Regions from separate parts of the Homo sapiens genome. Here regions 1, 2, 3, 4 and 5 are each reported to be linked to region 6. Evidence: microRNA targets listed by miRTarBase, many of them from high-throughput screens and not tested one by one. Region 6 holds a microRNA gene; each other region holds the end of a gene's coding sequence. Distances are from middle to middle.

Region 1 (4,130 bases), not on the chromosome of region 6:
GCATCCTAGGGTGCCAGTATCCCCCGAGGGGACAAAACTCAGCCAGCGGGAATGGGAAATTATCTAGGGTGATAGGAATATTGTCAGCACAACCACACAACCCAAGATCAGAAAGGCCCTTGGCAACTCAAATGCCCAAGTTCCTTCCTTAAGTACCCTGCAGAGGCTGAACAGGGTCTGTGGGCTGCCAGGTTCTGTGCGGGATCAAGGGGAGCTCTGCAAGCTCTGGCCGGCTTGGCGGCACAGACTGTCTTGCTGCAAGCGATGAGAAGCAAATCAGCAGTGGTTTGAGAAACCAGAGTCTAGCGCAGCTTCTGCAATTCCAAACATTCTCCTTCCTCGTCCCCATTTCCCCCTTTCCTTGCCCATGGTGCAGGATGGAATGAGTAAAATAAATTATCTTTTTCTCCCCATTTCTCTTTACAGAACTGAAGAATAACGAAGTTATCCTTAGCGTCCTCCTAAAGGCTTTTCCTTTTGGCATCTTAAAAGCTTGAGAGATAAAACGGAAACCCCAGAGAGGAGTCTGGGCAGGCTCCCAGGGTGCATGCTGCCTCCATAAATCTGCTGAGCTCTAGACCCTCAATCAGGACTTGTCCCTTGGCTAGCAGGATCCTGGGAACACCTTTGGCCCTGCCCTGTGTAGAGATGTTCATGTCTGTTCCTGTGGGTCACTTTGTTAAGCTGAAGAGTTTTAAGAGGTAGAGCTCAGACCCTGGACTGGGATTTTTCTTACCACTCAAACTTGCTATCCACACACCCTGCACACCTTAGATAAAAAGAACATTTTAAAAGCAGAGTTCACTTTCACTCCAGTCTCCCCTCTTTTGCCCTCACTGAAGCCAAACCACAGAAGACTTTGAGGAATGAGAGACAAATGAGGTAGAGCTCACCTGTGCTCACCAGCTCCGTCAGGGTGGTCAGCCGACCCCTTTCCCTGGGAACCCCACTTCTCTCTGTGGCTGGCTTGGTTGTCGGGGGTGAGATGCCATATTGATTACAGGGCAGCAAAGAACCAGTACCAGGAATTTACTTGACCATTCCCCTTATTTTTCATCTAGAGGAATCTCGGATTCAGCCCTTTCATTGCTAAGACACCTTTTCACTGAGGTTCTTACCAGCTCAGCCAAATCTCCACTCTGCTATAGCAGAAGCAATAATGTTTGCTTTAAAAAGATTTCTTGACCTATGCCTTTTCTTAGAAAGTTTGATAGATTAGTTAGAACTTCAGATCATCAGATCAGTCTCAAATGGGTTTCTTGGAATTTTATATTTGACAATATTTATACTATACCAAACTCATTTGCAGTTCTTAGGTTTGTTGGTTAAAACATTTTTTTAAAGCAGTAAGTTTATAGAAAATGTTTTCATTTAATGGAAGGCTGGGGAATGTCCAGCATCAACCCCTATGGCATGCATTCCCAGGGGCCTTCTCATCTGGGCCTGGAACCTTTGGTTCAGGGCTTAGGGGAGAACAGGCCACATGGCAACAGCCACACAGTCATTGCCTTCAACACAGAGCCACGTGTCCCCAAACAGCAATAGTCATGCCCTTGTCCAGGCTGGGATCTAATTGACACAATAGGTCGTTGACTCCCTCCTAGTAGAGCTATCTAGGTTTGTCTGGAAAGTTTCCGACCCTGGCTTATAGGCACCACACCTCATGTACTCCTCATGGCTTGGATCTCTGTATTCAGCCTTTGTTCAGTCCAATAAACTTTGAGTAGATGATCTCAATTACTGTGTGTTTTTTCAGTTTGCTTTGTTTTAAAACAAAATCCCTTTTGAACCCATTGAAGTTTGACCTTTCTTTCATTTTGATGCCTCTTACTCTGCAGCAGAGTACAAAGCCATACATCCACCCTGTTAAAAAATATGCAGTCACCATGGCTGTCAAAACCACATGACATGATCTGTGTTCACTCAGGGACATATGGATTGTGCTTCCATCCACAGAGCTCAGCACATCCTTTCTGTTCACGGGAATTCCTCTTCTTCTTCTTTTTTTTTTTTTTTTTGAGACAGGGCCTCCCTCTGTTGCCCAAGCTGGAGTGCAGTGGTGCAATCACAGCTCACTGTGGCCTGGACCTCGTGGGCTTAAGTGATCCTCCCGTCTCAGCCTCCCAGGTAGCTGGGACTACAGGTGCTCACCACCACACCTGGCTAATTGTTTTATAGAGACAGAGTCTGACTATGTTGCTCAGGCTGGTCTTGAACTCCTGGGCTCAAGTGATCTTCCCATCTTGGCCTCCTAAAGTTCTAGGATTACAGGCATGAGCCACTGCACCTGACCCTCTTTCTTCTTACAGGAGGGCACAAAGCACACATCATAGGCTGCTGCTTCACCAGACAGGGGAACCGACTGTAGACACAGCTTTCCCAGGGGACAAGGGAGGCTGGGAAGTGGGACTTCAGTATTTCAACTACTAGATGCTGCTCTAGACAGAAAATTTTGCAGGATGGAAGATGCGGGGCTGAGGAGAGGAGGGAAGGGTGAAGCAAAGGAATATGGTAGCAAAAGTATGGGAGCGAACGTGGAGACCACCCCTCCAGGCAGTGTGGGGGATGCCAGTGGCCCAGGGCTATGCTGAGGTCCTGCGGTTGCAGAGCCTGTAACGTGCTTACAGCCGACCCAGCTGCAGAGCAGGGCTGAGAGGTCCGACACTGTGATGTGGTTTACGTTCTCTGAAGGCACTGAGCCCGTGGTGTGTGGGGGGCAGGAACTGCAGAAACCAGAAGAGTGAGATGCAGCCAGGATGCAGTGCCCGGCTGGGCTGAGGAGCACAGGGCACCAGAGTGGAGCAAACAACAAACATATGGCTCCCTGGGTTCGGCAGCCGCCTCGCCCCACCTGAGGTGTTTGTGCTGCAGAAGTTGTCCTGTGCTGGTCAGATGGTGTAGCTGAGCCTCATAAAGATAACAAGACATTGCTCCCAGCACAGAACCCGCGTGGAGCAAACATTTAGGCCAGTCTTCCTCCACACCCATCCCTTGATAAAAGGGGCAGGGCCGCCACCTGCCATAGGGTATCTTGTGCAAATTAGGAAAAGGCACCCCCCTTTCTCTGGCCAGTGAAACCCCACAGGCTTCCCTCCCCGCTCCTTTGCCAAGCACCGTCTTGCACACACTTGTATGCTCCCTGATTTCCCAGCTGATAATGTTTTTTCTTTCTCCACTTTCGGCTCATTCCTCTCAACGAAGGCTGTTTCTAACCTACTTCTTCATAGCACTACCTCAAGCTGCTTCATGGAGCCTATCTTCTTCCTCATTACATCACTGTGGGACATGCAGTCAACAATCAAATGAGGCCCAAAGGGAAACTGAGGCACAGAGCACCTAAGTGATACCTGGGGTCCCCAAACCTCCCCGGCAAACCTGAGATTTCGCATCCCAGTTTTTAGAGCCCTCAAAAGTTGCGTGTGTCAGACCCAACCAGCTCCGATGTTCTAAGTGGGTTTTATTTTCATTTTCTTCTTGTTCTGAAAAGCAACCGCAGTCACACAAGAGAGAGGAGAGTCCCAACTCCGCCGGCTGCACACAGGCTCCCTCTCTCCCCAGTGGGCTAGGAGCACCTTCTTCCTCTTTGTCCTTTCTTCTCGACAGAGTTCAGAAGGAACAGCTGGCTGCCATCTTCAAGCTCATGAAAGACAACAAGGAGACGTTTGGCGAGATGTCCGACGGCGACGTGCAGGAGCAGCTCCGGCTCTACGACATGTAGACTGCGCCCACGGGATGCACAGCGGCCATGCCTGATGCTGTCCCCACCCTTGCCCCATGCCCTTGTTCTTTCCAGACTTCTGTAGGCCTAATTTTCCCTTATAAACATAGATGCAGGCGTACATTCTATAGGTACTTGCCGAGTTCTTGCAGTGTGTATATTACTTTGCAGGAATCAAAATTGTTTTATTCAGAAGACAAAGTCCCTGACCCCTCTGGTTTCTGCTTGCTGGTGAGGTTCCAGCTGTTATTGGGCTCTGAGGCCCTCTCCTGATCCAAATCTTTTTTTGTTTGTTTGAGATGGAGTCTCACTCTGTCTCCCAGGCTGGAGTGCAGTGGCGTGATCTTGGCTCACTGCAACCTCCACCTCCCTGATTCAAGCGACTCTCCTGCCTCAGCCTCCCGAGTAGCTG
Region 2 (4,000 bases), not on the chromosome of region 6:
CGATCCCACCCCAAAACGCAGAGAAGGAAAGCCGAGAAGACAAAAAAGAGAGAGAGAATTACCATGGCTGATGTGAAGCTTCCTCATCCAGGGGAATATTTGCGGAGTCTGCCCCTCGGGCGCGGCTGTGGAGGTGGCCATGGGCTCTGGCTGCGCCCGAGCTAGGCTGGGGCTGCTTAGCTGGCTTGCCGCTTCCTCAGGCTCCGAGGACGCGCTGGCCTCGTCTATTTCGGTGAAATTGGCGCTGGAGCTGGCTGAGGTCGCCTGGTCGGAGGGGGACGAAGCAGAGGGCTTGGCGCCGTGGCTGTCGCCGTTGGTGCAGGGCAGGGACTCGGGCGAGGACAGGGAGCAGCTCGAAGCCGCTTGCCTGAAGCGGGGCTCCTGGGCGGGCGCGGGGAAGGCGCGCGAGCTCTCGCCCACCGCCCCAAAGTGGCTGGAGGAGGCCGAGGAGCGGTTGACGCTGAGGTCCATCCCATTGTAATTGTAGCCGTAAGAGCCGGTGTGCATGGCAGCGGGATCCCTGTAAGAGCCGCTCAGAGAGCTGCCACTGCCATAATTTAGCAACTGATAGTCCGGGCCATTTGGATAACGCCCCGAGAAGGAGTTTACAAAGTACGAGCTCATTTGGGTGATTTTGGAGGGCTTGATTTGTGGATCGTGGTCGTTATAACCCTGTGCTTCACGATTTATGATGTATTAATGAATTATAGCGATGCACTGTACTTCGTTTTGCTATGTATGCGGCCAAATATGGGGGGGGGGTTGGAAGGGGGGTGGGGGGCGTTAGGGAATCACGTGCTTTTGTTGACCAGTCGTAAATTCTCGCTGATGACCTCAAGAGGTAATTCATGCTCTATGGTTACAAATAATGACGATCCGAGAATCGTTAGGGCCGATTCAATGCGAGCCTCCGAGAGAGGGGGAAAAAAGGAGAAGGGGGAGAAACAGAGAGAAGGTTGGCTTTGGCCTCTGAGCAGAGCGCGCCACCTCCCGGCGACCGACGGGAGCGCGGGCGTGAGACCGCCATGGCGGCGGGCGGCTGCCTCCCTGCTGGCTCCCTGCAGGCTCCCTGCAGTCGCCGGGAGAGAAAGAAACCCGGCCAAGGCTCAGCCACAGGGTTGAGCCTTTTAGAGCAGGGGTTGGGCTTTTTACCCACTTTCTTGTGGGTGGGGTTAGCCTCTCTATTTGGTTCTTTCTCCCTACATCATCATTGTCGTTATTATTTTAACTTTGGATGAGAAGATCAAAGATAGAGTTGCTTTTCCCTTTCTTGGGCTTTGCAAGTCTCCGAATTGGAGGCGGAAATGGGGGAAGGGTTGGAAGTTGTGTGTGAAAAACAATTATTGCAACGGGTTTTCCCCAGGAGCTTAGTCCGGCCTGCATCCTGGTGGAACTGCTGTTACCGGTCCACAGCGCCCAGGCCGAGCCGGCAGGGCTGGGCGGGAGGCTTGAAAAAGAAGGAGAAGCGTTCACTTCTCCTGGGCCACTTGGAAGTTCGAAATCCCCTTCCGGACCTCCTTGGTGGTCCTTAGCCCAGGCGTGGGGAGTGACAGAGCAGGACAGGGACCCCAGAAACCGAGCACAGCTGGGGCTAAGCGGCCTAGTTGCCGAAAAGACTGCAGCGGCCACCGCGTCTGCTGCTTAGTTTGAGTAGTAACATGTGTCTGAGAGTTTGTAAAGCGGGATCCCTTCCCCTCCTCCTCGGCTATTGCATTCGGAGGCCCCACTACAGGTCCCTCACTCGCAGCTAGGCAGTTTGAGAATTTGCCTGGTGGCAGCCGCCTTCCCGGAAAAGGGGTTCCAAGGACCCGCATGCTTTGCTGAGCACGCTGGGCGGCCAGAGACCGCCGCAGCTGGTCTCCTATTAGGAGGGGACTATTTTCTTTAAAAATAAGAAAGGAAGCGAGAGGGCGGAGGAATAAAGGAAAACAGTGACCGCAGCTTGCCTTCTGGGTGCCGGTGCAAGCAGAGAGAGAATGAGCCATTCTGGGTTGAGAGGATGACACTAAAAGCCCCATCACCTGGCCTCCTGCCCTGGGGTCTCCAAGGAGCAAGGGAAAGTTGTGGCCTTCGGCCTGTGCCTGGCTGGTGGCTTTACATTCCCCTACTTGAGGCTGATCTCCTACTTGAGGCTGATCTGCTACTTGAGGTGGGAAGGGGCACCTGGAGCCTTCAGCTGCAGGGTGAGAGATACCCAGTGGCCCCATTTTTCAGTCTCCAGAGCCACAGGCCAGGAGCGGAGGGCCAAGGCTGGCGAAAAAACCTGGCCATGTGGACGGGCCAAAGACCAGGGGTCGCTGCGAAGGTGAGGACAGAAAAGCGCTGCAGAGGCCCCCAGACTATGGCTCCGTCTCCGCCAGAGAGCTTTAGGGGCCTCAGTGGCTCCCTTAGTGCTGTGTATACACGAGGAAAGGCTAGAGAATGAGAGGGACACAGCACCTCTCCATCCCCCAAGTCTGCACGGGGAGAAGCGGCTGTGAGCCTCAGCACCAGGGAAACGCAGCGCTGGGGCCTGGGCAGGACTGATCGCTCCAGCCTTTATCTCAGCTGTAACTTCCCAGTCGAACAGGGCTCGCTTCGGCGGGCCAGGGCTCTCGCCTTTGCTGAAGAATTCTGGCTCAGGAAAGATGGAGAGGCTGGGGGTTGAGGAGAGAGGAAAAAATGGCAGGGGAGGATTGGAGGTGACCGAGCGTCGAGTTTTCACATCTTTATTATTGTTGTTGTTGTTGTTATTATTATTATTATTATCATCATCATCATCATCATCATCATCGAAGTATTTCACGTCCAGAGCTAAGACAAGACTACAAACACAACACATAGAAAATTAATAAAATAGAACTTTGTTTTCTTCTGAGGCTCCTCTTCTTACTTCTAGGTAGTATGTGCTCCTTCCAGTGGCTTTGGGGAGGGGGTGGGAGAGACGACAGGTCTGGGATCAGGGAGTCTTCAAGGCCCCCGCTGAGGGGACAGCGAATCTACCATTGAACCGTGCACGGGGGACATGGACAAAATGAGACGCGACAGGGACAAGAGCATTTTGCTCTGCTTCCAGGAAACATCAAGTGAGTCCGCTCCTCAGTTCTCACCAGGAAGCCTGATCAGGCTGAGGCGAGTTCCTCGGGAAGGAAGGGCGCGCGGGATGCTGGGTGGGCTCGAGTAGTGAGGCCTCAGAGCACCCGCCGGGAGCTGTGCGGGCGGGGGCGTCCAGGAGAGCGCTGGGCCCCGCCTGTCTGCGCCGGAGAGCAGGTCTCCTGGCTCCCCCACCCGAGAGCCTTCCTTCCCGGGTCTCTCTGACGCCCTCGGCTCCCCACAGGCCTTTCCCCTCGCGTCCTCCCTCCCTTTCCAGCACCTTCACTCGGCCTGTTTTTCTTCCTCCTCCTCGGCACTGAGCTGAGACGCGCTGAGCAGTTTGCTCTCCTTTTTCCACTTCATGCGTCGGTTCTGGAACCATATCTTGATCTGCCTCTCCGTCAGGCACAGGGCGTGCGCGATCTCGATGCGCCGCCGCCGCGTCAGGTAGCGATTGTAGTGAAACTCCTTCTCCAGCTCCAGCGTCTGGTAACGTGTGTATGTCTGGCGGCCTCGCCGGCCGCTGGGCCCAAAGGAGGAACCTGTTACGCAGAGTGGAGATGCTGAGGCCTGCGGTCACCGGGCCCAGGACCCCCTCCCCTAGTCGACCCTCGAACACAGACTCCAGCCAGTACCGGGATGCCCTCTATTCTGCCGGCTCCCTTCCCCCGTTTCGCACTCCTCCAGCGCCCCCTCCAGATTCCCTCCTAGTCTCCTAGGCCTGTGCCGTCTGTCTAGACTCTAGATGGGGGAGGGGAGGAGCAGTTTGAACTCCCACCTGAGCCTGGGGGGAGGGGCTGGTCAGGTGTGTCTCTTCCTAGTTGCATCTTGTCTTTCCCTCCCTTTCCATCCATCTTGTTCCCACCCCCCGTCATCCCCCCAACCCAATGATAAATCCAGGCCGTTAATCCGTAATGACGTAGATCGA
Region 3 (4,130 bases), 9.9 Mb from region 6:
TACGATACCAAGGAGGTCACCTTCTATCCCCAAGATGCTCCTGACCAACCACTGAAGGCATTGGCCTATGTGGCCACCCCACAGAACCCTGGTTACCTGGGCCCTGCGCCTGAAGAGGCCATTGCCACGCAGATCCTGGCCTGCCGGGGCTTCTCCGGCCACAACCTTGAATACTTGCTGCGTCTGGCAGACTTCATGCAGCTCTGTGGGCCTCAGGCGCAGGACGAGCACCTGGCAGCCATCGTGGACGCTGTGGGCACCATGTTGCCCTGCTTCTGCCCCACCGAGCAGGCTCTGGCGCTGGTGTGAGGGGCTGAGCCCCTGCGGGGAGTGCTCATGTGGACATCAGGGCCAGACACCCACTCCAGTGCACAAGACAGACTTGCGACCGCTTGAGCCCACTGAGCAGATATGGTGGGTGGCTGGAGGCTTCTCTTTCTCAGTCCCTGCCTGTCTGCCAGCCTGCAGCTCTCCTGCTTGACACTGACTTACTACTTGAAACTTTATTTATTGCACCATGTTGGTGTGGTGGGCAGGTGGAGGGCCTGCCCTGGACACAGGGGCCCTGCTGAGCAGTGGCCCCATCCTGGAACTTGACCAGATTCCCCCCAGTGCTGCTGCTAACCCCACACCACCCAGGCCTCCACCTCCCCAGGGAGTCTCCAAGAGCCTCGATCCTCTGCTCACTCAGCCCAGCCATCCATAGCCCTGGGAATTCCACCTGCCAAGGATCCCAGCAGGCTGGATGAGGGATAGTAGGGCATGAGGAGAAGGAGCCCTGTAAGGACTGAGGCCCCGGCCAGCCCTTCTCCTCCACCAGTTCCCCAGAGCAGAGCTGGAGCTGATGCCTGGACACAGCTGCTGAGCCTGGCCTGGGCCTCTTACCCACTTGGTTGTTTTCTTGTCCCTCTGTCTGTCTGTCTATCTACTTGTCTGTCTGGGCCACTCCTGCCTGTGTGTTGGTCTATTCCTGGGAAGCTCATCACTACAGGCCCTGGCAACCTTCCCAGTCTGTCCCATACTGTTACCCATAAAACTATCTCTTTATCTGTGCTGTGCCGGAATGTGGTTCTTTCTCAGATGGGGGTTTGGGGCAAGTGAGGTGGTGATGCCCTGGAAGGCTCCTAAGAGGGGAAAGGGCTCCCTCTTCCTCTCCTTCCCTCTCTTCCCAGGAGGGGCAGCTGGGCAGGCAGAATTAGCAGGTGACATCACTCTCATGGGTACAGTTCATGCCTTACGCATGCAAATAGTACCCCCTGAGTTGTGCAGAATTCAGCTCATGCTCTACTTGGCAGCCCTGTGAGCAGTGTCCTTGCCACCAACCTGGACTCTGTCTCATCCTGCCCAGCTGCCCCAAGGAGGCTGGCAGGCTTGGAGCTCAGACCAGCTCTTCCTCCAGCTGCAGGGCCAGCGGCTGCCTCTTCCTAACAGCTAGGCCAGAACCCTGGTGTCCTGCTAAAGGAGCACGTGGGTTAGGGTAGGGTGATGACAACTTCTAAGGCAAGGCTAATGGCAGGGACCTGTAGCCTGGAGGACCTGGTGTCCCTTTTACTTTCAGAGTCTGAGTGCTCACTGTTGCCTCCGGGAGTGTGGTGTTGCCTGTGCCTTCCCCATTGCCATCACCTGCCCTGGTTTACCCACACTGGAATGCGGGCCCCAAGTTTACCCCCTGCCTGTCCCCAGATGTTCTTGTCTAGCCCTTGGGGACAGATCACAGCTCCAGGATCTCAGCCTGGGCCTGAGCTCCTCATCAGGAGTGGCCTCTTAGTGCTACTCAATCCCTGAACTTGCAGAATGGGGCAGACCCAAAATGACAGGCTCTAGCAGCAGAAGAGCTTGAGGCCAAGGGCTGGGTGTGGTGGCTCATGCCTGTAATCCCAGTACTTTGGGAGGCCAAGGTGGGAGAATCACTTGAGCCCAGGAATTCGAGACCAGCCTGGACAACACAGTGAGACCCCATCTCTATAAAAAATACAAAGGAAATTAAAAAAAAAAAAAGTGCCTTGAGAGTCCAACCCAGCCTCCTCCTCATTGCCCAGTCACCTCGGAAAAAGCCTTCAGCCCCCTGGGTACAAGTTCACTGTGAGGGGACGATGCCGTGGGATGATGTATGGGGCAGGCTGGGTGGTATGTGTTGCTGCTGTTCTTGCGGCTGGTGTCCTGGATTGGTCTGGGTGTCTCCAGCAGGGTCAACTCCGATCAGGTTGTGCAGCCGTTGTGGCTGGGGAGGGTGCCATGCCTGGGCCGTGTGCTCATGTCTTGGCGGCCTTGTGTCTTGGCCATTGATGGGAAGAGTGTGGAGTCCAGCCAGCTTCTTCTGGGTGCCTGGTGAGGGCAACACAAAAGGAGGAGGCAGCAGGTGGCAGGGAGCCCTGGGCAGCTGCCTCCTGTGTTTCCTGGGCCTCTTGCCAGACAGCCAGAGCACAGCCCTGCTCCATCCTGGGAGCTGATGGTGGGGAGGGCTGCTTGCCAGCTGCACGTAGGGGGCTTTCACCCATCAAGCCATTCGATCAGCAAGTATTTCCTTAAGCTCCCACTGTGTGCCATGCACCATTCCAGGCACGGGGATACAGCGGTAAAGAACTCCTCCTCCTCAAGGAACTTGGAGTCTAGAAACTGATGGTGACCATTCAGCGTGGAATGGGAGAAGAGGGCCTTGAGCACCCAGAAAGGGCTTCTGACTTGAGCAGGGCAGTCAGGGAAGGCCTTCTTGGCTTTCTTGGAGAGGGAACCTGAGAAGGGGCCTCTGAGGAACAGAGAGTAAGGGAACAACACGTGCCTGAGGGGAGGCAAGCTCAGACCAGCTGGAACAGAGTGGCCCGGACAGGAGACACGAGCCAGACAGGTGGCAGGACTGCCGGCCTGGTGAATTGCGCTGTGCCATGCTGCGGGGTGGCATTCCTCCTGGGTCAGTGGGGGCCTCTGGTGGATTCTGAGAAGGGCAGAGATGTGCTTAAGAGAGAACACTGGCTGAAGTCAGATTGGAGGAGAGAGGCCAGAGGGAGCTGTAGGGTGCCCAAGCTGAGGTGTGCCAGTGGGAATGGACAGTGGAGGGATTGCAGAATTGTTTAGGGGTGAGGTTGACAGCATTTGGTGGCTGGTTTGATGAGCAGAGTGAAAGGAGGGTAGAGACAGTAGGGCTGGGGCTCCTGGGACAGTGGCAGATCTGGAAAGAGTCGGGGGTAGATAGCCTTGCGTTTAAGTTAGGGGTGCCTGTGAGGGGAGGAATGACTTCTACGGGGATGTTCAGGGCAGCTGGATATGTTGGTGTGGGAGTCAGGAGAGAAAGCTGGGCTGGAGTTAGAGACTTGGGAACCATACATGTGGAGACTGGGCTTAAAGCCCTGGTAGGGGAGGAGAGGAGAACAGGGCCCGGCCAGGCCCTGAGGACCCCAGCCGCGGTGGTCTGAGCAAAGCAAGAAGAGGTGTCGGGAACAAGCGCTGGAGAGGTAGGCGGAGAACGAGGAGAGGGCAGGGTGAGGAGAGCCAGGGTGGAAGGTGTCTCCAGGAGGTGCACAACATGGTCATGTTGCCAAGATGGCCAAGATGTCAAGAGAAACGAGGACAGAAGAGTGTCCACTGGATGAAATGCCAGGGGGGGTCCCTTGTGGCTTCAGTGAGAGCAATTTCAGGAACAGTATGGAAAGCCACAAGGCAGGGCTGAGGGGCCAGTGGGAGGGGAAGCAGCTTTCAGGAAACATGGTTGCTAAGAAGAGAGAGAAACAGGGATAACTGAGGGCACAGGAGTTGCGGGGGTCTCAGGACCCCTTCACAAATGAAAAATTGTGGAGGACCCCAAGAGCTTTTGTTTATGTCGGATATAGTTATTAACATTTACTGTAGTAGTGCGGTGGCTCATGCCTGTAATCCCAGCACTTTGGGAGGCCAAAAGCGGGCAGATCACTTGAGGTCAGGAGTTCAAGATCAGCCTGGACAACATGGTGAAACCCAGTCTCTACTAAAAAATACAAAAATTAGCCAGGCGTGGTGGTGGGCACCCGTAGTACCAACTACTTGGGAGGCTGAGGCAGGAGAATCACTTGAACCCAGGAGGTGGAGGTTGCAGTGAGCCAAGATCGCGCCACTGCACTCCGCCTAGGCGACAGAGCAAGACTCTGTCTTAAAAAACA
Region 4 (4,130 bases), not on the chromosome of region 6:
GAAAATTAGTCTTTCTCAGAATGCCTCTTCAAATGTCAGACTCTATTTAATTATAAACCACCTTTCCAGATGTAAAAAATTATTCAAATTTTAAAAGCCTGAAAAATTTAAAGGTTAATACAATTTAAAGACTGTTTGAATTCATTCAAATAAAAGGAAGGTCTTTCTTTAGGCCTTCTAATCTTTTCCTTTGGTATATACTGATTTCTTCTTATGGAAATATTTTATTCTTTCCTATGTTTTTTTATTTACCTTTAGGGACGGCTGGTGACTGGAAGAATTACTTCACCGTGGCCCAAAATGAGAAATTTGATGCTATTTATGAGACAGAAATGTCCAAAACTGCACTTCAATTCCGCACAGAGATTTAAAGTGTCTAAATCACACATCTGAAGAAATAAGAGATTGTCTGTAGTTGATTGAAACGAGGGCAGTTATGAATTGATTTGGGCAATCAAATGAATTTATAAAGGAGAATAATATGCTTTTAATATGTTGATTCTTTTCAATGTTATTAATCAGATCCCAGTTTTGTTCCTTTGATTCTGAGTTTCCAAATTCTCTAAGGCTAAAGTTCATTGTTAACTTTTTGTAACAAAGGAACAATGTAACCACAGGCTCTTCCTGCCTTTTTCTACACTAGTACTGATAAGAAAGAAGGGATTTATTTTACTTAATCTCCCATATATTATGATTTAGAATTAAGTTCCCCTCCCTAGTACCATGGTCCAAGAAATGCTGTTTTCATAATGAGACTATATTTCCTAACTCTGCCCCAATTTCCCTTTGCCGAAAATTTGACCCAGGACACTGTGTTCCACTGCTGTCTACCGAGTTTCAAGTTGTTCTCTGAGTCATAGCTCATCTTCCTGCAGTGCCTCTATTTGGATAACAAAGTTCATGTCCCCGATCATGTAGTTCAGATTTTGGAAATCTTTTTTCTATATCATACCTAATGTCTAAGTCTCCGAAAGGCAAACGCCTACAATAGTCTCTGTAGGATTGGTTACCTGGGAACTGGAGCTCTGTTCTGAAAAGCAGCCCTGAGGGCTGTGACCTACTTCTTATGGGGAGTCCTCTTTTTCCCAACAGACCCGTTTGAACTTCAGAGAAATCACCTACTGCTGTGTTCTGGTCACCATTTGGGAACTTCAGTTACTTAATCTTATATTTGGATAGATTTGGATACCTTAATAGCACCTTTAATATCCTAGACATGATCATAACCTCTGCAAAATATTTCCCAATCTGGTGCCCAAGGAAGACTCTCTAGGCTGAATCTCCACTCTGCCCTCTTGACCCAATGTTCCTTCTACTTATTATTACATGCTTATATCTATTTGTGTGGTCTCTGATCTATGTTTTCTTGGAACATTTATATATATATATATATATATATATATATATATATATATATATATATATGTACATTTTATTATTATACTTTAAGTTCCAGGTTACATGTGCACAATGTGCAGGTTTGTTATATATGCATACATGTGCCATGTTGGTGTGCTGCATCCATTAACTCGTCATTTACATTAGGTATACCTCCTAATGCTATCCTTCCCCCCTCCCTCCACCCCACAACAGGCCCCAGTGTGTGATGTTACCTTTCCTGTGTCCAAGTGTTCTCATCGTTCAATTCCCACCAATGACTAAGAACATGAGGTGTTTGGTTTTTTTGTTCTTGCAATAGTTTGCTGAAAAGTATGGTTTCCAGCTTTATCCATGTCCCTACAAAGGACATGAACTCATCATTTTTTATGGCTGCACAGTATTCTATGGTGTATATGTGCCACATTTTCTTAATCCAGTCTATCATTGATGGACATTTGGGTTGGTTCCAAGTCTTTGCTATTGTGAATAGTGCCGCAATAAATATACGTGTGCATGTGTCTTTATAGCAGCATGATTTATAATCCTTTGGGTATATACCCAGTAATGGGATGGCTGGGTCAAATGGTATTTCTAGTTCTAGATCTCTGAGGAATTGCCACACTGTCTTCCACAATGGTTGAACTAGTTTACACTCCCACCAAAAGTGTAAAAGTGTTCCTATTTCTCCACATCCTTTCCAGCACCTGTTGTTTCCTGACTTTTTAATGATTGCCATTCTAACTGGTGTGAGATGGTATCTCATTGTGGTTTTGATTTGCATTTCCCTGATGGCCAGTGATGATGAGCATTTTTTCATGTGTCTGTTGGCTGCATAAATGTCTTCTTTTGAGAAGTATCTGTTCATATTCTTTGCACACTTGTTGATGGGGTTGTTTTTTTTTTCTTGTAAATTTGTTTGAGTTCTTTGTAGATTCTGGATATTAGCCCTTTGTCAGATGAGTAGATTGCAAAAATTTTCTCCCATTCTGTAGGTTGCCTGTTCACGCTGATGGTAGTTTCTTTTGCTGTGCAGAAGCTCTTTAGTTTAATTAGATCCCATTTGTCAATTTTGGCTTTTGTTGCCATTGCTTTTGGTGTTTTAGACATGAAGTCCTTGCCCATGCCTATGTCCTGAATGATATTGCCTAGGTTTTCTTCTAGGGTTTTTATGGTTTTAGGTCTTACATTTAAGTCTTTAATCCATCTTGAATTAATTTTTGTATAAGGTGTAAGGAAGGGATCCAGGTTCTGCTTTCTACATATGGCTAGCCAGTTTTCCCAGCACCATTTATTAAATAGGGAATCCTTTCCCCATTGCTTGTTTTCGTCAGGTTTGTCAAAGATCAGATAATTGTAGATGTGTAGTATTATTTCTGAGGGCTCTGTTCTGTTCCATTGGTCTATATCTCTGTTTTGGTCCAGTACCATGCTGTTTTGGTTACTGTAGCCTTGTAGTATAGTTTGAAGTCAGGTAGTATGATGCTTCCAGCTTTGCTCTTTTGGCTTAGGATTGACTTGGCAATGCGGGCTCTTTTTTGGTTTCTTATGAACTTTAAAGTAGTTTTTTCCAATTCTGTGAAGAAAGTCATTGGTAGCTTAATGGGGATGGCATTGAATCTATAAATGACCTTGGGCAGTATGGCCATTTTCATGATATTGATTCTTCCTATCCATGAGCATGGAATGTTCTTCTATTTGTTTGTATCCTCTTTTATTTCATTGAGCAGTGGTTTGTAGTTCTCCTTGAAGTGATCCTTCACATCCCTTGTAAGTTGGATTCCTAGGTATTTTATTCTCTTTGAAGCAATTGTGAATGGGAGTTCACTCCTGATTTGGCTCTCTGTCTGTTATTGGTGTATAAGAATGCTTGTGATTTTTGTACATTGATTTTGTATCCTGAGACTTTGCTGAAGTTGCTTATCAGCTTAAGGAGATTTTGGGCTGAGACAATGGGGTTTTCTACATATACAATCATGTCATCTGCAAACAGGGACAATTTGACTTCCTCTTCTCCTAATTGAATACCCTTTATTTCTTTCTCCTGCCTGATTGCCCTGGCCAGAACTTCCAACACTATGTTGAATAGGAGTGGTGAGAGACGGCATCCCTGTCTTGTGCCAGTTTTCAAAGGGAATGCTTCCAGGTTTTGCCCATGCAGTATGATATTGGCTGGTGGTTTGTCATAGAGGGCTCTCCTTATTTTGAGATACATTCCATCAATACCTAATTTATTGAGAGTTTTTAGCATGAAGGCTGTTGAATTTTGTCAAAGGCCTTTTCTGCATCTATTGAGATAATCATGTGGTTTTTGTCTTTGGTTCTGTTTATATGCTGGATTACATTTATTGATTTGCATATGTTGAACCAGCCTTGAATCCCAGGGATGAAGCCCACTTGATCATGGTGGATAAGCTTTTTGATGTGCTGCTGGATTCGGTTTGCCAGTATTTTATTGAGGATTTTTGCATCAATGTTCATCAGGGTTATTGGTCTAAAATTCTCTTTTTTTGTTGTGTCTCTGCCAGGCTTTGGTATCAGGATGATGCTGGCCTCATAAAATGAGTTAGGGAGGATTCCCTCCTTTTCTGTTCATTGGAATAGTTTCAGAAGGAATGGTACCAGCTCCTCCTTGGACCTCTGGTAGAATTCAGCTGTGAATCTATCTGGTCCTGGACTTCTTTTGGTTGGTAAGCTATTAATTATTGCCTCTATTTCAGAGCATGTTATTTTTCTATTCAGAGATTCAACTT
Region 5 (4,130 bases), not on the chromosome of region 6:
GCTTCCCCCAACACTCGCAGTGGAACCCGCCGTTCTCCGCGCATTGCCACCACCACAGCCAGCGCCGCCACTGCTGCCGCCATTGGTGCCACCCCTCGAGCCAAGGGCAAGGTAGAGGCACTGGCAGGATGGGGGAGGGAAACCCGATGAGAGCATGGGCACCCCCCAGACCGCCCCACCAAGTAGCATCCAAGATGGGGCCACGCCAGGCTGCTGGAGGGTGTGGGGTAAGAGGTGTCCCTGTCCTGGTAGCTCCTCTCCAAGGAGAGAAGACAGATGGCCCCATTCTCATGGAGAGCACCCAGAGCTGCTCAGGCACAGCCAGCAACTGATAACCCTGGGGCTCACAAGGGAGGGGATCCAGACAGGGGCGTGGGAGCAGGAAGAGATCTTCCCAGCCAGTGGGTGCAGGCTAGTATCGCAAGTTCTCATCTGGCCATGTGACTGTGTCTCTTTCAGGCAAAGCACTAAAGGGCCAGTACCAGTGAGTGGCCCCACCTGTGTCCCCGATGCTGACCTCACCTGGTCCTCCGCCTACTGTCCCTCTCAGTGCCTTCTCTCAGCTCCCAGGCCAACAGTAGCCAAACCCCTAGAGACAGTGATGCCTGCCCGCACCCTGGCCTGGTCCCTGGTCCTTCACTGGCGCCTTCTCGGAGCTGGCCCAGGGGGCCTGGAGCATGGACAGTGTGGGCGCTCTCCCTACCTTGCCTCCTTTTTTCTTAAAGCAAAGTCACTTCTCCATCACAACCAGATTTGAGGCTGGTTTTGATGGCTGGGTCCTTGGGCCTGGCCAGTCTTCCTCTTAGCCTCTGGATCTAGAAGGGACCATAAGAGGAGTAGGCCCTGGTTCCTGCTGTCCTGGTGGCTGGGCCCAGCAGGGGCCCTCACTCTTGAAGTCCAGGACTGGGTCTGACCTGGTGGGAGCACCTGCCAGAGGATGCTCTTTCCCAGGACGGATGGGCCCTATGTCTCAGGAGTGGGGTTGGGGGACAGCCTTCAGCAGCAGCTCACACCCTACCTTCCCCAGACTTGCACTGGGGTGGGATTTGGAGTGATGGGAAGGTTTTTAAGGGCCGGGGATGGATCTTTTCTAAATGTTATTACTTGTAAATAAAGTCTATTTTTCTCCCGTGAGTACTGAGTTGACTTGATCGGTGTGGGAAAAAGAGGAATATAGGCTCTTTGAAGCCTACCTTGTTCCTGCTGAGTCTTCCATACCACCTCCTTTCTCTCATCCCTTTTCCTGAGGCCACATCTTTCCAGGCTCTTCCCACTCTCCATTAGTGGCCTCTGCTCCCGGGGAGCATTATGGGCTGTTCTCTCTTTTCTTTTTCAAGCGCCTGTGTTCCCCTGAAGCAGGTGTTGTCTTCAGCTTCTGTGTGGCAGTCCCTCTCTCCCATACTCCCTCGTGGGACAGGCAAAGTTCCTGGGAGTGGAACTGAAGCCTAAATGAACAGATGTCAGGATGCCTCCATTGAATAATCCTTTATGAGGACCCATGTGGGGATGACACAGATACAGTGTGGATCCGAAGCAGCTGCTGCCCCCATCCCTTCCCTGGAACAGTCCATTAGAGTGAAGGGGGAAAAAAAAAACATACAGCACGAAGATAGGAAGTCTGCAGAATGCGGCCAGAGCTGAAAGAGGATGACTTCACTGAAGAGGCAGCATTTCAACCAGGCTTGAGCGTTCCCCTGCTGGGGCGGTGAGGAAGACGGGACTAAATGAGCAGAGACATGGGAGTGGGAGCTGTCTGGGAAAAGCAAGAATAGTTGGGAGGCTTCCAGAAAGTCATGTGGGAAATGCAGGTAGGGCCCTGGAGTGCAAGGCTAAGGCATCAACAGTCTTGGTGGTTTCTGAGCAGTAGAGCAGTGTGAGGAGTAGGACGTTAGGAAGGCTAATGGATAGGTGGAGAGAGAATGGCAGGAGGAGGAGGCATTATAAGGAGGCTGTGATTTTCTAGGTAGGTGGGAATGGAGTTTGAATTTGGTGAGAGAAGGGACCCAAAGCAGAGAAGGAGGGGGTGTGTTGCGCATCCACGCAGCCTACAGGCAGTCAGGGACTGTTCACTCCAGGTAGACAGGTAGGACCCAAGCTCTGGTCAAGGTTGTGCTGCTGCTGGCCCTGTGCTGAGTCTTAACCCTGCTGCTGTGGACTGCTGTGGCTGGAGGGCAGGGCTTCTTGGGTGGGGGGCAAGGTTGCCCTCAGCCCAGCCTAGGGAAGTGAAGGCAGACAAGGATCAGGCCAAGGAAAGGAGGGACATCTCATCACTTTGCCCCAGGCTACACCTCCTCTGCCCAAGACCTAAGTTCCTTTTTGTCTGGCTGACCTTGAGGAATGCTGGGCATTAGTTCACAGGCTGCTCTGGCAGAGCCCACCCTTTCCTCCCCACATATGGAAGCAGAGCTCCTCCTGTTCCTGGAGGCCTCTCCTTGGGCTCCTCACCCAGAGCTGGGCCAGGACGACGTGACGCTGGACAACCTGTTCAGGGTCCACGAGCACACAGGAGAAGTTGGTGCTGTGCAGGGCAGGGGTCAGCTGCTCCAGCACCAAGGCCTTGCACAGCTGCGTACCTGTGCTCCCACGTTCCCGGCTGGAGCGGAAGGGAAGGAAAGGTCATGAGAAGGCCGCAGAAGGCCTCCTTCCCACCCACCTGGCTGCTGCGACCCTCACCTGGTGCTCCCCTCCCACAGTCGGCCTGGGAGGTGCTCAATGAAGGAACCATTGCCCAGCCAGTAGAGGATGCTGAAGTTGGGGAAGCGGCTGCAGGCCACACAGGATAAGCTCAGCGTTCCATCTAGGGACACAGGCAGCAGTTAGCTCTTCAGAAGAGCAGGCCCTTCCCCTACCCTGCTCTGCTGTGCCCTCCCTGCCAGCTCCCCCCAGTCCCCATGCATCTGGAACCTAGAGAACTGCTCTGCACACCACCTAGGTGGGAACGTCCGTTACAGAAGTGCAGTTGTCTCCGAGAGGCCCTAGCCCTAAACACGGGGAATGTGAGGAATGGTCCTTGGTTCACGTGATGAATCCTCTTCTGAACCTGTCTCCTCAGGATGACCTTTTCTAGTGCCCAGCCTCGGTGACTTGGGAGCCCAGGTGACAAAGGCAGTGCTGGATGGCTGCTGCTCCTCTGAGATGGCCAGAGGCCAGCAGGCTCTGGGTGGAGGGGCTGGCCTTGGGGTCCACTGCAACCAAGGCTCTGGGAGGTCCTGTGACCATTACTTATGTCTTGAGTTCTCTGTCCTATTTGATAGGGAGCATCTTGGGAGCTGCGCCAAGCCTGCACCCATGACACTGGGTTGGGGAGGGAGAATGGTGCGTGCTCAGCCCAGCTGGCTCAGCTGGTGGTACATGGGCAGAAGGGGACTGGCGCTCAGGAGTCAACCCGACCCTGGGAACCTCTGTGCCCATAGCCCACCCTCCACCACTGTGCTTCTTACTCAGTGGCACTTCCACCTCTGGCCAGGTCACTTCCAATGCTGGACACTGCTTAGCTGCTGGGAACACTGGGGGCTGGGAGGGGCAGGGGTCCTTTGTGCTTCTAACTGAGGCAGTGGCAGCTGTGGTGGTCTGCGAGACAGGTGTGGCTCTGACCAGGAGAGTGACGACGTGGGCACACAGGAGCAGGACCCACAAAGGGCTGAGGTCTGAGGAAAGGACAGTTACAGGTCAGCGGCTCTGGAGACAGAGTGGGCTGCCCGGGTAAGGATGTAACTCCAGCCCAGAGATGTCTGGGTTCTAGCCAGGGAATCAGAGCGGGAAGAGGGACCCCTCAGCACCCACCCCTTAGCCCTTTATTGAACAGAGTACAGAGAAGCTTTAGACTGGAGCCAGAGCTACAATATCTGCCCAGGTTCTTAAAGCAACAGCACCAGGTGCGCTGGGTGGTTTGCCTTGGAGTGAAGGCTCCGGGTTAGCCCATTGCTCCATTCTGTTCATAGACCTCACCCTACCCCGCCTGCCCATGCGTAGCCCCAAGGCCTACCTGGTGTCCAGTTGTGTCTCATGGTCATGATGCATGCGTCAGGAGCTGGTGAGCCTGGCTCTTTATCTGTGACAACGTCCTCTTCTCTGGTGAAAGGTGGGGGAGGAGAATGGTAAACCACTCCCGCTTTTTCTCAGTAGCTGGC
Region 6 (4,000 bases):
AAACAATTAACTTTCTTTCTATTTTAATGTAACAATTGGCAAAAATAAAACCTTCAAAAGGCAGGGTAGAGATGTGAGAATAAGTTTTAGTGCAGTCACTCCACACATATGTATTGTGCTTGCTTCCCTTGTTGGTCTTAACATCCAAGTCCTGCAGGTCTGATTTGCGCTGTGCACTTTGTCAGGTAACAAGAGTGTACCAGACCATGTCCAACCCTCTAAGTAAGCTCTCTGTGCTCAACAACTCCCACACCCACTTCATCCTGGCTGACAATGGCACCCTGGGCAAGTATGGCGCCGAGGTGAAGCTGCGAAGGCTGCTGGAAAAGCACATCTCCCTGCAGAAGATCAACACAAGTAAGTGCTGGCAAAGGCACGCAGTCCTCCTGGGCTGATGCCATCACAGTGGAAACAAGGCTGAGAAGGAGATTGATTGCCCAAGGGGATTAGAAGATTAACCTTGCTTCTTGTTAGGTCAACAGAAAATGACTCACCTAGATGTCTTACCTTAGCCACCTACCAAATCACATTCACTGGGCTACATGGGGATGCTTTGCCCCAGGTTCACAAGTTAGCACGAAATAACCCTCAGTGCTCGCCATGGTGATGGCCTTGCCCACCCTGTTGCCCAGTGGTTCTTGTTCCCTGTAATTAGTTGTTATTTTTTAAGTGTTTTAACAGGAAAACAATTTCTCAAAGATTTAGTAGGATTCTTTCTATTTGCTGATAAGTATTATGTGATTATTAAATATCTCTGTAATGCTGGGCCTTTCATGTAGACTAAGATGGCCAGGTGGGGACATATCTGGAGAGGGCTGCAGGAGCCATCTGCTCCTGAAGGGGCATCATCCTTGCTGGTCCTGAGGGGGAGCTGTCACTGTCAGACGAAAGCTGAGGTCGAACTAGAGAGAAAGACGCAAACCTCAACCAGAAGAAACAATGATAACAACTGGTTAGAATTACAATAACTGGTATAATCTCTTGGAGCATGTTTATACTCCAGTAATTCTTAACGTCAAACAATTGTTAAATGATCTGAAAGAGCAGTTTGTTTTTCCCATTACTGGCAAGATTTTTGTGGGAGACCATCTAGTCCTGGCGAATGGTCATTGGGAATCATCATGTATGGGACTGTGATGCTGCAGAGTGGGTAGAATGGGGATGGCCTACTAGGAAAAGTTGTAGATTTCCGAGAATCAGATCTCGAAGAATACATTGGTCGATGACTGAATGTTTTTTGTTCTCACATCTCTAATTTTTCTGGACTTGTAAGTTTTTACAACACCCCATTTCACCTGGCCATGTGACTTGTGGGCTTCCCTTTGTCATCCTTCGCCTAGGGCTCTGAGCAGGGCAGGGACAGCAAAGGGGTGCTCAGTTGTCACTTCCCACAGCACGGAGCTTCGAGGACTCCAGCCTAAGCCAAGAAGAACCTGTTCTACTCTGTTGCTCGAAAAGAAGGTGATTTGGCCACCATATTCCTAAAGATTGAAAATATCAATCCTTGCTTGGGTTGGAAATCTCAAAGGCGGAGTCCAGGATATCTTAGTTCATTTTTCCAATATCTCCTGGTCAGGGCTTTGCACAAAGCAGACCCTCAATGCATGTCTGCTGAAATGAACTTAGCTGTAATTACTCTGGTGGACACAGCAGAGTTATTCAACATATGTAAGAGTCCCTGACTGTAGAAACACCTCATGGAAGCAAATTAGAAACTCTGAAATGGCTCATTTGAAATTCTCCAATCTTCTCTTAACCAATGCTGGCAGATTTTTATCTGAAGCCCTTCAGAGCTGAGACCAACGATACTTCCACTTGCCTTTAGTTAATATCGATCAACTAATTCCCATCACAACTAATGGACAGCTGGTGAAATAGGCTCAGAGTGTGATCTGTCATGGCCAGTGTGGCATAAAATTAGGAAGTAGGCAAATGTGCCTCCACTCCCATTTCCTTCCCATTCCAGAATCCCAACTTCCTGGAATCTTCCTGCCACCTCTTGCTTCCCAGAGCCATGCCTGCAGGTTCTGCCACCAAAAGTTAGTTGGTACCCACTGTGTTCTTGAAGAGTCCTATTAACTGATAGAGACAGAGGGAGGACTCTGGGAACAGGTCATTAACTGATGGGCCACTAGTGGTCCAAGTGGCTGCGTCCAAGATCTGCACTTTATTCCAGCCACTGAAGACAGAAACGTCAACAAGAACAGTGTACCTCATTTGTATGCTACTTAACGTTTACAAAATTATTTGCTAGCCAAACACATATTCTGATATTTTTACAACTGCAGGAGTTAAAGGAAGCACTGTGATTGTTCACCTTTTACAAATGGCTGTCTAAGGCTCTTGGTGATTTGGTGATTGGCCCAGTGTCATAAGGGAGAAGCCAGGAATTGAACTGCAATTTCCCTGGCTGGTCCAGATCCCCTTTCATCATCTTATTCTTCAGGGACAGCCATCAGGGTGGGAATTTCAGACCATAGGCTAGGACAGCCAGGGGGATATTTTTCCAGCCAGGAATACCTTCCAATATTTCTCAGTGGTCACCTTGAAGTAGCCCCAACATCAGGTGGGTGGGTTATTCAGGAGTTTAACCATATGTGAGTCAGAAAGTTTCAGACTTTGAGGTCCTGGTTTTCCCAATGAGGCCATAATATGTGACAGAATGCAAGAATGATAACTGGGCTGGGCACAGTGGCTTACACCTGTAATCCTAGCACTTTGGGAGGCCAAGGCAGGTGGATCACTTGAGCCCAGGTGTTTGAGACCAGCCTGGGCAACATGGCAAGACTTCATCTCTACCAAAAATTAGCCAGGTGTGGTGGCATGTGCCCATAGTCCCAGCTACTCAGGAGGCTGAGGTGGGAGGATTGCCTGAGCTGAGAGGGAGGTTGAGGCTGCAGTGAGCCATGATCATGCCACTGCACTCCAGCTTGGGGGACAGAGTGTGATTCTGTCTCAAAAAAGAAAAAAGAAAAGAAAAGAAAAAGAAAATTGTTATCACATGCCTGAATTCCTTCCAGCCAGATAGAACATCCCCCAAGTCGTAATGTTTTTACTCTTCCCCATACTTCAGGAGTTAAAACGACTGGGTGGACAGTGCAGGGCACAGGTGGTATGGGCGAATGTGGTTTGTGTTGCAGGACTGGGGCAGGGCGTGCCCCTCGTGGGTCTCGTGGTGGAGGGGGGCCCTAACGTGGTGTCCATCGTCTTGGAATACCTGCAAGAAGAGCCTCCCATCCCTGTGGTGATTTGTGATGGCAGCGGACGTGCCTCGGACATCCTGTCCTTTGCGCACAAGTACTGTGAAGAAGGCGGGTAGGATTTCTGACGCGCGAGGAAGGGCGGGTTCGTAACTCCCTCTTTGTCGGGCCAAGGAGAAAATCTAAAGTGGTCTGCTTAGACATTCCAAACGTGTTTAAATCAGGAAGATTTGCTAGATCTCCTCTCCCATTTCCTCAGGTCAGCATCCAGGGGAACCATCAGAGGCAGGGTGTTCCTGATGGAATTCTCTCTCCCTCATTTCCAACTTCATTTGCCCTTAGAAAGTTTGCAACAAAGCTGGAATTTAGGACAAGTGAGAATACGATGTTTGACTATGGTTACTTTTTGTCTCCTGTGTCAGGATATCCTCCCACAGCAAAGTCTCAAATCAAAGACAGAGATATGTCTGACTCATTCATATATAGATTTAACTTGCCTTGTTTTGTTCTCTTGCATTTTCTTTGAACAGAATAATAAATGAGTCCCTCAGGGAGCAGCTTCTAGTTACCATTCAGAAAACATTTAATTATAATAAGGCACAATCACATCAGCTGTTTGCAATTATAATGGAGTGCATGAAGAAGAAAGAACTCGTAAGTGTCTTGAATTTATTTCCAAACAAGCTCTGTGGAGAGAATTATGTTTCCTTTTCTAATTCCGCCCATGTGTGCATGACAGGGTTATTCATATTTTAGTCCGGCCTTTTCTGAGAGACAGTACAAATGCATACCAAATTGGT

What was found. The annotated mature microRNA hsa-miR-211-3p reads GCAGGGACAGCAAAGGGGUGC and lies in region 6 at 1,354-1,374, shown strand. An mRNA with a match to its seed (bases 2 to 7 or 8) in the 3' UTR can be bound and repressed. Matches are read on the target gene's strand: a 7mer-m8 pairs with bases 2 to 8, a 7mer-A1 pairs with bases 2 to 7 and ends in A, and an 8mer does both.
Region 1: miRTarBase lists MXRA7 as a target of hsa-miR-211-3p. The part of its 3' UTR that is shown has no 7-base or 8-base seed match.
Region 2: the mRNA of HOXB6 is a reported target of hsa-miR-211-3p. Seed matches in the 3' UTR shown: 7mer-m8 at 3,025-3,031 and 7mer-A1 at 2,939-2,945.
Region 3: miRTarBase lists CHAC1 as a target of hsa-miR-211-3p. Seed matches in the 3' UTR shown: 7mer-m8 at 443-449.
Region 4: miRTarBase lists SULT1B1 as a target of hsa-miR-211-3p. Seed matches in the 3' UTR shown: 7mer-A1 at 2,163-2,169.
Region 5: miRTarBase lists NUMA1 as a target of hsa-miR-211-3p. Seed matches in the 3' UTR shown: 7mer-m8 at 625-631.

What each region holds. Positions count from the first base shown.
Region 1 is chr17:76,677,176-76,681,305 of GRCh38, reverse strand. MXRA7 (matrix remodeling associated 7) reads left to right here. Exons shown (of 4, transcript NM_198530.4): 4 at 427-1,740. The coding sequence ends at 439. Among named protein-coding and RNA genes, the nearest start is that of MXRA7, 32 kb to the left of the region's middle.
Region 2 is chr17:48,593,059-48,597,058 of GRCh38, forward strand. It overlaps HOXB6 (homeobox B6), which reads right to left. Exons shown (of 4, transcript NM_018952.5): 4 at 2,693-3,614. The coding sequence ends at 3,355. It overlaps HOXB5 (homeobox B5), which reads right to left and starts at 721. Exons shown (of 2, transcript NM_002147.4): 1 at 63-721. The coding sequence starts at 624. The region is part of intron 1 of HOXB-AS3 (HOXB cluster antisense RNA 3); the gene reads left to right. RefSeq lists a silencer at 345-394 and enhancers at 651-1,158, 860-929, 1,159-1,664, 2,707-3,378, 3,436-3,605.
Region 3 is chr15:40,955,466-40,959,595 of GRCh38, forward strand. CHAC1 (ChaC glutathione specific gamma-glutamylcyclotransferase 1) reads left to right here. Exons shown (of 3, transcript NM_024111.6): 3 at 1-1,047. The coding sequence ends at 309. Among named protein-coding and RNA genes, the nearest start is that of CHAC1, 4.1 kb to the left of the region's middle. RefSeq lists enhancers at 234-784, 2,287-2,823.
Region 4 is chr4:69,723,329-69,727,458 of GRCh38, reverse strand. It overlaps SULT1B1 (sulfotransferase family 1B member 1), which reads left to right. Exons shown (of 8, transcript NM_014465.4): 8 at 259-4,130. The coding sequence ends at 371. Among named protein-coding and RNA genes, the nearest start is that of SULT1B1, 35 kb to the left of the region's middle.
Region 5 is chr11:71,999,868-72,003,997 of GRCh38, reverse strand. NUMA1 (nuclear mitotic apparatus protein 1) reads left to right here. Exons shown (of 27, transcript NM_006185.4): 26 at 1-111; 27 at 460-1,134. The coding sequence ends at 471. It overlaps IL18BP (interleukin 18 binding protein), which reads right to left. Exons shown (of 6, transcript NM_001039660.2): 2 at 3,986-4,071; 3 at 3,441-3,647; 4 at 2,674-2,797; 5 at 2,446-2,593; 6 at 1,194-2,214. The coding sequence starts at 4,013. The coding sequence ends at 2,137. Among named protein-coding and RNA genes, the nearest start is that of IL18BP, 3.0 kb to the right of the region's middle.
Region 6 is chr15:31,062,433-31,066,432 of GRCh38, reverse strand. It overlaps MIR211 (microRNA 211), which reads left to right and starts at 1,292; the gene lies at 1,292-1,401. TRPM1 (transient receptor potential cation channel subfamily M member 1) reads left to right here. Exons shown (of 28, transcript NM_001252024.2): 7 at 186-357; 8 at 3,141-3,315; 9 at 3,731-3,854.